2 separate regions of the Homo sapiens genome follow, and region 2 is linked to region 1. The links come from fine-mapping of genetic effects on gene expression. A gene starts in region 1. The other region holds a variant in brackets. All regions are shown on one strand. Distances are between the middles of the regions.

Region 1 (5,381 bases):
ATTATTCTCTGCCCGCCCCCACCCCATCTTTCTTTAATACCAGATCTCAATACGGACACAGTCTCAAAAGCATGACAATTTTTACGTAAAGCATTATCATACTGTGTATGACCTTCAGAAATCTAGCAACAATCAACTCATTTGAGTTTAAAACAGCCTGTCCAAAATGCCTTTTATTTACAAGGAAATTATTCTTTGTACAATGGTAAGAAAATCTATTTTCAATGATATTGTTTCTGGTTAACAGTTCTAAAATGGACTGACGTTAGAAGAGTTCTTTCAGAACTCACTGTTGGCAATATATGCCTTTTTACTGAAATTCTACTACTCTCAAAGGTGACATTTACAGAATTTTTAACTCTTCAAAGTTGATCATAAACACGGTCTCTCTTTGATTCTATCAGACTTCTTTTTTACTTTATGGAGTGCTCAGAAACTTACGTCAGAAGTAATTTTAAGCTTTAGTAACCAAATTTATCCCAGCATGGTTTAAAATGAAAACAAAAATAAGTTGTTTTGCAGATGTCATGAAAGCAAGATCTAAGTTTTACTAAGGTTCCTACTTATTTTAAGCTCTTTATCCAACTTCAATTTATTTAATTTAAAAAAATCAAAAGAACTACAGCTTCAGAAGATTTAGCAACTTCTATCTGGATCAAGTCAACCTCTAACCAGGGCTGGCCAAAGGTTTTGTTTCTCACGCACTCTAATTTTAAATAACAATAATTTTAATAATAATTCAGAAGAAATACTTCACTTGGTTTCCCTTTACTTCTCTTCAGCCCATGACTTAACGCTGCACTGTGCCCATCAACTTCACGATTTAGCAAAGCAATTAACCAGCAACTCCTGAACAAGCTTCACAGGAAGATTTTTCTCATGACTGAGCAGCCGTTTTTATCCTAGGTGAGTTTTCTCAAAAATAATTGAGTAAGTAATCTACCAGCTTCTGGCATATCTTTGGCAAGTCACATTTTCTGCCTTGTTTTGTAGCTGAGAAGGGTATAAAAATCCCACGAAAAGAAACCAGAACTCCGAGCCTAGAAATGTAAATTATGATCCAAGCTAAACCACTCACCAGTTGGTTGAACCTAAGTATAAATAATTACCCCCATCCCAGCTCCATTTACCCATCGAAATGGCGATAACATAATCAGTTGCAACCACAAGGTGATGCGGTTAGAAAAAGATAGGAAGAAGAGTGCTCTGAAACGTGTAAAGGTGCTACGTAAATAGAAGGTAATAATCAGTGGTGACAGAACTCTCACCTCCTTTGCAAAACTTAAAGGGTCATCTCATGGCTTACAGCAAGAAAAGAGTCGAGCACAAGTAACCCGAGCCCGTTGGTGACACTTTGCCGAACTCCAGGGGGAGGATGATTAGCAGTTCCGGGCGGGAGTCAGGAGAATGCCAATCCGAGCCCAACGTGGGCTGCTCGCGCTCTCGCCCCCCATGGGAGAGAGGCACTGAGAGATCAAAATGCAACCCCGCTCCAAGCCACCCTCGCAAATGAAGGAATTTCGAAGAGGGGGTAGGAGGAGGCGGGCTGGGCGCGCCGCTGCCACCTCCGACTGGGCCACTCCTTGCGCCGCCAGCGCCCCAGCCCACGGTGCCACGTCCCGGCCTCCGTCACCGCCAGCCCTCACCCTACCCGGAACGGGGCACATCTTCCGGAGGCCACCGGAATCGTTCCCTTGCAGGCGCCCCTGGGGGGCCACACATCGGACCAGGGAAGGGAGGGGACAGTTAGAGCGGTTGGAACAGTTGCCCCCAGGCTGGCCGCCCCGGAACCCGGCCCGGCCCGCCCCGGCGGAGCCTCAGACACGGCCCCGGGCCGGGAAGGCTCCCCAAGGGCAGGCCTCGGCGCCGCCGGCCCAGCGCAGCCCCTTAGGGAGCGGCCCCGCGCTGCAGGCTCACCTCCAATGTGTCAAAAGCGCATGTTCGCCGCCGCTCAACCGACGTCTCCCCTCCGCCGGCCCGGCCAGGCCCGCCCAGCCGCTCGGCTCAGCTCCCCTACGCAGCCCCGAGCTCCACTCAGCGTACCTCCGCGCCCGGCTCCTCCCCGACACGTCAGGGACTGCCTGGGTGTCCGAGGCCATTCTGTGACGCACGGGGGCGGGGCTCGGAGCATGCGCGGCAGCGCACGGGTATGCGGGGCGGGGTGGGGCGGGGCTGGTGTCACAGGGGGCGGGCCAGAGCCCGGCGCGCTGACGCCAAGCTGACGGCGTCCTCTTGCGCAGGCGTCCTCTTGCGCAGGCGCTCCTGGACTCTGCGACCGGCTGGTTTTGGCTTGTGCAGTTCCCTGAAACTGCTATTCGGGAGAGTGGTGCCAAGACGGATGGGAACCTGCCTTCAGTTTTCTGGCCACCAAGGCCCTTCAAGTGTCCATGTGTCTGTGTTCCCGTTTATAAAATGAATCTCGGCTCATAGTTCACCTCCGAGTCCATTCCCCCTGCTCGAACACCCAATGGAACATCAGGAGCATTCTAAGCATCACTCTCACAAAGCTCTGTGTTGTTTTTACAGAACTTCCACTGTTTACATTTTGTATTTGTTCTCATCTTCCTCCAGTAGAATTCTAAGTTCTATGAGAGCTAGAACCTCTTATGCCTTGCTCATCCCAACAGATAACTTGGTTCTAGGCAAAGTGGACGCTCAAATATTTGATGAATGAATGAATGGATTCGTTGGCACAAAGGGGATTTTATATTTGCCCATTTATATATTGTATATATCTGAGCATATATTCATTTTTGTATACATGCGTGTACGTGTGTGTATGGGTGTGACTTTCTCCCCTCCAGGTCCCCCAAGAAATGGAGTCCTATGTGTATATATATACCTCTTACAATCCATCTTGGTTTTTGTTTGTTTGTTTGTTTGTTTGTTTTTGAGACGGAGTTTCGCTCTTGTTGCCCAGGCTGGAGTGCAGTGGCGCGATCTCGGCTCACTGCAACCTCCGCCTCCCAGGTTTAAGCAATTCTCCTGCCTCAGCCTCCCTAGTAGCTGGGATTACAGGCGCCTGCCACCACGCCCGACTAATTTTTGTATTTTTAGTAGAGACGGGGTTTCACCATGTTGGCCAGGCTGGTCTCGAACTCCTGACCTCGTGATCCGCCCGCCTCGGCCTCCCAAAGTGCTGGGATTACAGGCGTGAGACACAGCGCCCGGCCCCATCTTGCATTATTAATGTTTATATATTTTTAGTACGTAAACACACACGTGTATGTGTGTGTGCGCGCGTGTGTATTCCCTAGCGGACTTGGAAGCAAGCTGGAGACGATACTAGCCCAAAAAGGAGGGAAAGAGGGATAGGCAACTTACATAGGGAGTGGAAACTTAAAGGAAGAGATACATTTTAAAAACAATTTTAAGAACTTTTGCTGTATAATGTACAAGGTAATCCTTTCCTTTAGGAGATGGGGTCTACTGTGTTGCCCAGGCTGGTCAAGAACTCCTGACTTCGGCCAGGCGCTGCAGCACTTTGGGAAGCCGAGGCGGGCAAATCACCTGAGGCCAGGACTTCGAGACCAGCCTGGCCAACATGGTGAAACCCTGTCTCTACTAAAAGTACAAAAATTAGCCAGGCATGATGGTGGGCACCTGTAATCCTAGCTACTCCGGAGGCTGAGGCAGGAGAATCGCTCGAACCCGGGAGGCGGAGGTTGCAGTGAGCACCACTGCACTCTAACCTGGGCGACAGAGTGAGACTCCGTCTAAAAACAAACAAAACAAAACAAAAAAGAACTCCTGACTTCAGGCAATCTTCCCACCTCAGCCCCCCACAAAGTCCTGGGATTACAGGCACCAGCCTCCATGCGGCACGCAATGTAATCCTTTCCAATTTCAGTGCTTTTAGGATTGGATTTGTGGGTGTGAACACAAAAATAATGTGTAAGACATGCCTCAAGGTGAAAACAAAGTGAGCCTAGGAGGCCCAGTTTATATTTTTGAGGGCGATGGACATAAACAGGAACAATGCAAGATGGATTGTAAGAGGTACCCAAATCAATAAAGATCAGAGAAGGGATTAATGGGGTTTGTGGGAAAGGTAACATATTACATATGCCTATTATGAATAATATTATGAATAATATGCATATTATGAAAAAACTATGCATGGATTTCCAATTTTTTTTTTGCACAGGGCCAAGCATGGTGGCCCATACCTGTAATCCCAGCACTCTGGGAAGCTGAGGTAGACAGATCACTTGAGCCCAGAAGTTCGAGACCAGCCTGGGCAGCACAGTGAGACACCTGTCTCTAAAAAAATAAAATAAATGTTTGCACCAAAATAAATTTGTTCTAACTTGCTATAACATGTCTGAACAGGATCTAGCTTGAAGCACCAAGAAAGATAAGAAATCAGTTTGAAGAGAGTCCCTATCAGAACACATATTCTACAAAATTGAAGCAATACAAAATACTAAATTTATGGTGAAGCCTGGGTGGAAAAATGGTGGAATCATTGACGCTTTATAAAAGTGTAAAAGGACAAAGCCCCAAAAGAAGTCAGCAGTTTACAAATGGATAATTCATTTTAAGAAGAAACATGATGATGTTGAAGATGAAGCCCACAGCAGCAGACCCTCCACATCAATTTGTGAGGAAAAAAAGTAATCTTGTTCATGTGCTAATTGAAAAGGATCAATGATTAACAGCAGAAACAATAGCCAGCACCACAGATATCTCAACAGATTTGGCCTACACAATCCTTACTGAAAAATTAAAGTTGAGCTAACTTTCCACCCAATGGGTGGCAAAACCATTGTGCCCAGGTCAGCTGCTGACAAGAACAGAGCTTTCAAAATTTCACACATTTTAAACAAGTGGGATCAAGATCCTGAAGCTTTTTTTTTTTTTGAAGAATTGTAACCAAGAATGAAACTTCGCTTTACCAGTACAATCCTGAAGACAAAGCGGTGGCTACCAAGAGATGGAAGTAGTCCAGTCAAAGCAAAGTGAACCAGTCAAGAGCAAAAATCATGGCAACCATTTTGTGGGTTGTTCTAGGCATTTTGCTTTCTGGAGGGCTAAAGAATAATAACGTACTTATTACGAGAGTGTTTTGAGAAGATTAGCCAAAGCTTTAGTGGAAAAATGCCCAGGAAACCTTCATCAGAGAGACCTTTCCACCATGATAAAGTTCCTGCTCATTTCTCTCATCAAACAAGGGCAATTTTGCAAGAGTTTCAGTGGAAAATCAGTAGACATCACCTTACAGTCCCAATTTGGCTCCCTCTGAAGACTTTTTGTTTCCTAATCTTAAAAAATCTTTAGGCCAGGCGCAGTGGCTCATGCCTGTAATCCCAGCACTTTGGGAAGCCGAGGCAGGCGGATCACGAGGTCAGGAGATCGAGACCATCCTGGCTAACACGGTG
Region 2 (5,381 bases), 180 kb before region 1:
GGCAAATCATGGAATGGTCATTTTTAGTGATGTTGTTTTCTTGCAAAATTGACTGTTGTTTTCTTGCAAAGTCTGATATTTGCATTAGCCTTTTTTTTTTGGATTAGTGTTTGTGTGGTTAATTGCTTTCTTAACTTACTTTCAGCTTTTCTGTGCCTGTGCCTTTAAAATATGTCTCTCATAAACTGCTTATGGTGGTTATTTTTGTCCCAAATCTGACAATATTTTTCAGCTGGAATATTTAGTTTATGTACATGTGATGTAATGACTGTTACATTTTAGCTTAAATCTGTCCTCTGATTCATTGCTTTCTTTTTATCCTACCCGCTCTATGTTTATTTTTTAATCTTTTTGTCCGTTGGTTATAATTTTTATTATTCTGTCTTTTCACCTCGTGTTAGCTGTCCATTTTTGCTATTTGCTTAGCTATTCTTTTAGTGGTTACATATTCCAACATGGATCCTTGACCTGTTAGACATGTGGAGCTCTTATTCTTTTGTAGATCATGATAGGTAGGGCCTGAGAGCACCTGAACAAATTTATTTCCTCTTCCTTCCTAATTTATGTGCTTTTGTTGTTTAATTCTCTCTATATTTTAAAACCCACAAGACACATATTACATTTTAATACTGTCGATATTCATTTAGTTTTATCCATTACTCTTTTTTTTCCACATCTTTTAGCTTCCGTTCTTTTAGAAAGGGCCCCTTTTATCTGAAGTATCTACTCGTCCTTTATTTTTGAAGTTTTTTTGGTTTTTGCTGGATTTGGAATTCAGAGCCGGCGGTTGTTTTCTTTTAACATTGTGAAAATGCCATTGCATCGGGTTCTGCCTTTCGTCTTTTTCTGTTGAGAATTCAGCTTGTAGTTTGATTGTTGTTCCCTTGAAGGTCATCGGTTTTCCTTTTCCCACCCCGGCCACTGGCTGTCTCTAAAATTTTCTCTGTCTTTGGATTTCAACACTTTTACTGTGATGGGCTTAGGTAAAGTTTTATTTTGTATATAGTGGGTCCTCCTTGTCTTCAAGGGATACATTCTAAGATCCCCAGTGGATGCCTGAAACCACAAATGGTACTGAACCATATATATATGATGTTTTTTCCTATACATACATACCTATGATAATTTTTTTTTTTTTTTGAGACAGAACAGAGTCTCCCTCTGTAGCCCAGGCTGGAGTGCAACGGTGCAATCTCGGCTCACTGCAACCTCCACCTGCCAGTTCAAGCAATTCCACTGCCTCAGCCTCTTGAGTAGCGGGGATTACAGGCGTGCGCCACCACGCCTGGCTAATTTTGGTATTTTTAGTAGAGACGGGGTTTCACCGTGTTGGTCAGGCTGGTTTTGAACTCCTGACCTCGTGATCTGCCCCCTCCTTGGCCTCCCAAAGTGCTGCGATTACAGGTGTGAGCCACCGCACCTGGCCATACCTATGATAAAATTTAATTTACAATTTAGGCGTGGTGGGAGATTAACAACAATAACTATTAAAATAGAGCAATTAAAACAATATACTTAATAAAAGTTATGTAAGTGGTTTCTCTCCCTCTTTCAGAATATCTTATTGTACTCTTCTTGTGATGATTTGATGAATTTCTTTTTCCTAGTTCACAAATTCACAGATAGAAGATTGATTCTTCCCATAGATCCTAGCAGCCTCAGCATATGATTTTATCGTTATTAAGTTGAAAACTTACCATATCACTTAAAGGAAGCACTTTGTGGCTTCTCTTTGGCATATCAGAATTGCCAGCATCACTACTCTTGTGCTTGGGGCTATTCTTAAGTAAAATAAAGGTGACTTGAACACAGTTGATCTGAGATCTGAGAGGGCTACCAAGTGATTAATAGCTGTACAGCATGATGATGCTGGACGAAGGGATAATTCACGGTCTGTGCACGATGGAGCGGAATTGTGCCAGATTTCATCACACTACTCAGAATAGTGCACAATTTAAAATGTATGAACTGTTTATTTCTGGAGTTTTTCAACAAATATTTTTGGACCACAGTTGATTGTGGACAACAAACTGCAGAAAGTGAAACCACAGATAAGGGGCACTACTGCATTCAGCTTGGAGATTGTAGTGGTTTTGACTCTGTGGCTTGATGGCTTTTGTTGGTCCGGGAAAATTCTTAGCCATTATCTCTTCAGATACTGCTTCTGCCTCATTCTCTTTTTTCTCCTTCTTGGACTCACATACTTCACATGCTCCAGATCGTTTCACCTCGTCCCATCTGG[G/C]TCTCACATTCCTCTACATTTTTATCCTTGTTTTTCCCCCATGGATCACTCTGGCTGTTTGCCTCTGATTAAAATGCCGTGTAACTAATTGTTTCTTCAGCTGTATCTAGCTTGCTGTTTAACACATGAATTCTTAATTGTAGTTACTGGTTTTCTTTTTTTGTTTTGTTTTGTTTTGTTTTGTTTTTCAGTTTTAGAATTTTCATTTGGGTTTTTCCTTTAATAGTTTCCAGTTCTCTGTCAGAATTCTCAGTCACGTCTTTAATTACTTGAACATATTGTAACCCAGGGCAATAATACAAGTCAATAAAAATAGACACACAGAGGTTCCAGATATTATCTTGGATTTCAGCCACAACTTGTTGCCTCATATGCCCAGTTATTGTGTACAAGGAATTGTGGAAATAGTTTGAGACTCTGGCTGGCATTAAGCTTATTCTAGAGTTTTGCTTTGGGCAGGCAGGCTTAGGGAAACTAGGACATGTAGTCCATGCAGGAGTTGACTTCTGTTCCAACTGGGCTTCACGCTGTGTGAGGGCTGGTCTGTTTCTCATATAGTCTTAACTCTTAGGGTGTAGCCATCAGGGTCCCAGCTGAAAGCTTGGGGTATTTACCACCGCCACACCAACCTCTTCCTGAGTAGACTGGAATGTTTTAATTTTTGTTCTCTTAGACTTTTGTGCTGCTGAAAGCTCTGCTTAGCATCTTCTCAGCAACGGGTTTTGGGATGCATAACTATTATCTATCTAAGAAAGAAATAACAATTCTCTAATCATCAAATATTCAGTTACTTTTCTTATTTTCCTTTTGTCTCATAAATAATCTCATAAATAGTTGGTCTGTACAATTCAGGATCCAAACAAGGTTGACATATTGAGATTGGTTGCTTAGTCTGTTTTGTGTTGCTATAACAAAATAACACAGATTGTATGATTTATAAACAAGAGAAGTTTATTTGGCTTATGGTTCTAGAGGCTGGGAAGTCCAAGGTCAAGGGGCTGCATCTGGTGGGGCCTTCTTGCGGCATCATTCCATGGGAGAAGGCGGAAGGGCAAGAAGAGCATGCTCAAGAGAGAGCAAGAGATAGAATTTATAGCCACAAGCCCTTTTATAATTGGCATTAATCCATTGATGAAGGTGGAGCCCTCATTATCTAAGCACCTCTCAATAGGCCTCACCTCCCAACATTGTTGCACTGGGGATTAAATTTCCAGCACATGCTTTTGTGGGGACACAGTCAAAGCATAGCAATTGTTATATCACTTTTAATCTCTTTCTCTCCCCTCTTTTTATTTATTTTTATTTATTTTTTATTTTTTTTTGCTTCTGGAGATAGGGGTCTCACTATATTGCCCAGGCTAGTCTTGAACTCCTGAGCTCAAGTGATCTTCCCACCGTGGCTTCCCAAAGTGCTGGGGTTACAAGCATGAGCTACCATGCCCGGCCGCTTCCCCCAACCCTTTTTTTTTTTTTTTTTTTTTGCAATCCTATGGTGCTCCCTATAAACTGGAAGGAGAAAAATCCATAAATTGGATCCAGAGGCTTAAACGGATTCAGATTCAGGAGACACTTAATGCTACATTGTCTCTCACTTTATGATGTTGAGATTGATCAGTAGTGAGTCATTTTAGGTTTTGCCAGCCTGGTTTGTGCATGAGGAGTGGCCTCATCTGCCAGTCACCTAAAAATTTTAATAGTGATGGGCATTGTGCAGATCCACTGTGGCACTGGGAGCTGCAAAATGGTGAGTCCAGTGCCATTATTCCTTCTGCGTTTGTTAGCTTAGCGAATTCCTTTTAATTCAATGTGTATTCCTCCACACACACAGTTTTCTCAAGTTTTTTTTTTTTACAGAGTGTTTTTGCTATTTTCTCTCAAAGAAGCAATAGCAACTAATGTTAGTTATCCTTCCTCTGCCCTCTATGTATTATTATTACTGATAAGTTTTGCCTTTGTAACGTCATTTTCTTTTATTATTTTACCATTGTTCTATTTTTCTTTAAGAAGGATGCTCTCCTATAATAAATGTCTGCTCTTATCACTTGATTTCCTGAGGTATCCATTCTGCCCTTTATTTTCTCCACTGTGGATTTTAATTTTACGTTTTCAGATGATTCCTTACAGTCTTTTCTGGCCCTGGTCACCTATTTTTTTTCTTATGCATTTCTGTCCTAATACGTAGACTCTATGTTATACTATATTCTGTTACAGATATAAATCTGTCTCCTAAAGTTTTCTTTTAGTTATTTTATAGATAATTTCCACAGGTAATTTATTTCTGAATCCTCTGAATGATGATCTTATTATTTAGGTTTTTTTTCAAAATTTGCATGTGAATTTTAACTAGGTGCAGTGTTTGCAGGTGGTATGGGTGAATTATTCTTTCCTTCCTCCCTTTCCTTCTCGATGGTGGTCTGATTTCTTCTGAGAGCTACAGTTGGGATGTAGGGTTACATGATATTCCCAGTTCAATCCCTGTTCGTAGTAGGAGACTATTGTATCTCTGCTCCATTGCGTTGACATTTGCACCAGCCTACACTTCCTGTTTCTCTAATCCTTTGAACCTATGAAACAATGCATATACATAGCCCTGCTTTCTTAAACAGAGGCCGGGCACTTCCAGGCTGAAAAATTTCCCAATCGGCTGGGCGCGGTGGCTCATGCCTGTAATCCCAGCACTTTGGGAGGCCAAGGCGGGCAGATCACGAGGTCAGGGGATCGAGGCCATCCTGGCTAACACAGTGAAACCCCGTCTCTACTAAAAATACAAAAAAATTAGCGGGGCGTGGTGGCAGGCGCCTGTAGTCCCAGCTACGCGGAAGGCTGATGCAGGAGAATGGCGTCAGCCCGGGAGGCGGAGCTTGCAGTGAGCCGAGATCGTGCCACTGCACTCCAGCCTGGCGACAGAGCGAGACTCCGTCTCAAAAAAAAAAAAAAAAAAATTTCCCAATCATAGACAGAGGAAGATGGGCATTCCAGGCAGAGTGGTCAGCATAGGTGGGAGCCTGGAGGCATAAAGCAGCATAGTGGGCTTGAAAATTTGTAAATGTTTCCAACTGCAAATATTTTTGTATGTCTCCCTTAGGTAAAGTATACAGTAGTGTTATTATGCAAACTTAACCTTTCAGGCCTTTGCAGC

Direction of the effects. Alleles are on the strand shown, and positions count from the first base shown. SD is a standard deviation of normalised expression in the study named.
As copies of C replace G in region 2, the expression in monocytes of the gene that starts at base 2,079 in region 1 goes up (moderate effect, 0.46 SD a copy in Fairfax 2014).

What was found. PIP is the estimated chance that this variant, and not a neighbour inherited with it, causes the effect. A credible set is the group of variants that fine-mapping cannot tell apart.
Region 2: its variant is the best candidate, but not a certain one, in a credible set for the expression of NDEL1 in monocytes (Fairfax 2014, PIP 0.51).

The regions. Positions count from the first base shown.
Region 1 is chr17:8,432,582-8,437,962 of GRCh38, reverse strand. It overlaps NDEL1 (nudE neurodevelopment protein 1 like 1), which reads right to left and starts at 2,079. Exons shown (of 9, transcript NM_030808.5): 1 at 1,918-2,079. RefSeq lists silencers at 1,526-1,765, 1,806-2,005, 2,106-2,275.
Region 2 is chr17:8,608,614-8,613,994 of GRCh38, reverse strand. All of the region lies in intron 2 of MYH10 (myosin heavy chain 10), which reads left to right. Among named protein-coding and RNA genes, the nearest start is that of MYH10, 19 kb to the left of the region's middle. The variant G/C (reference allele first, on the strand shown) is at 2,243.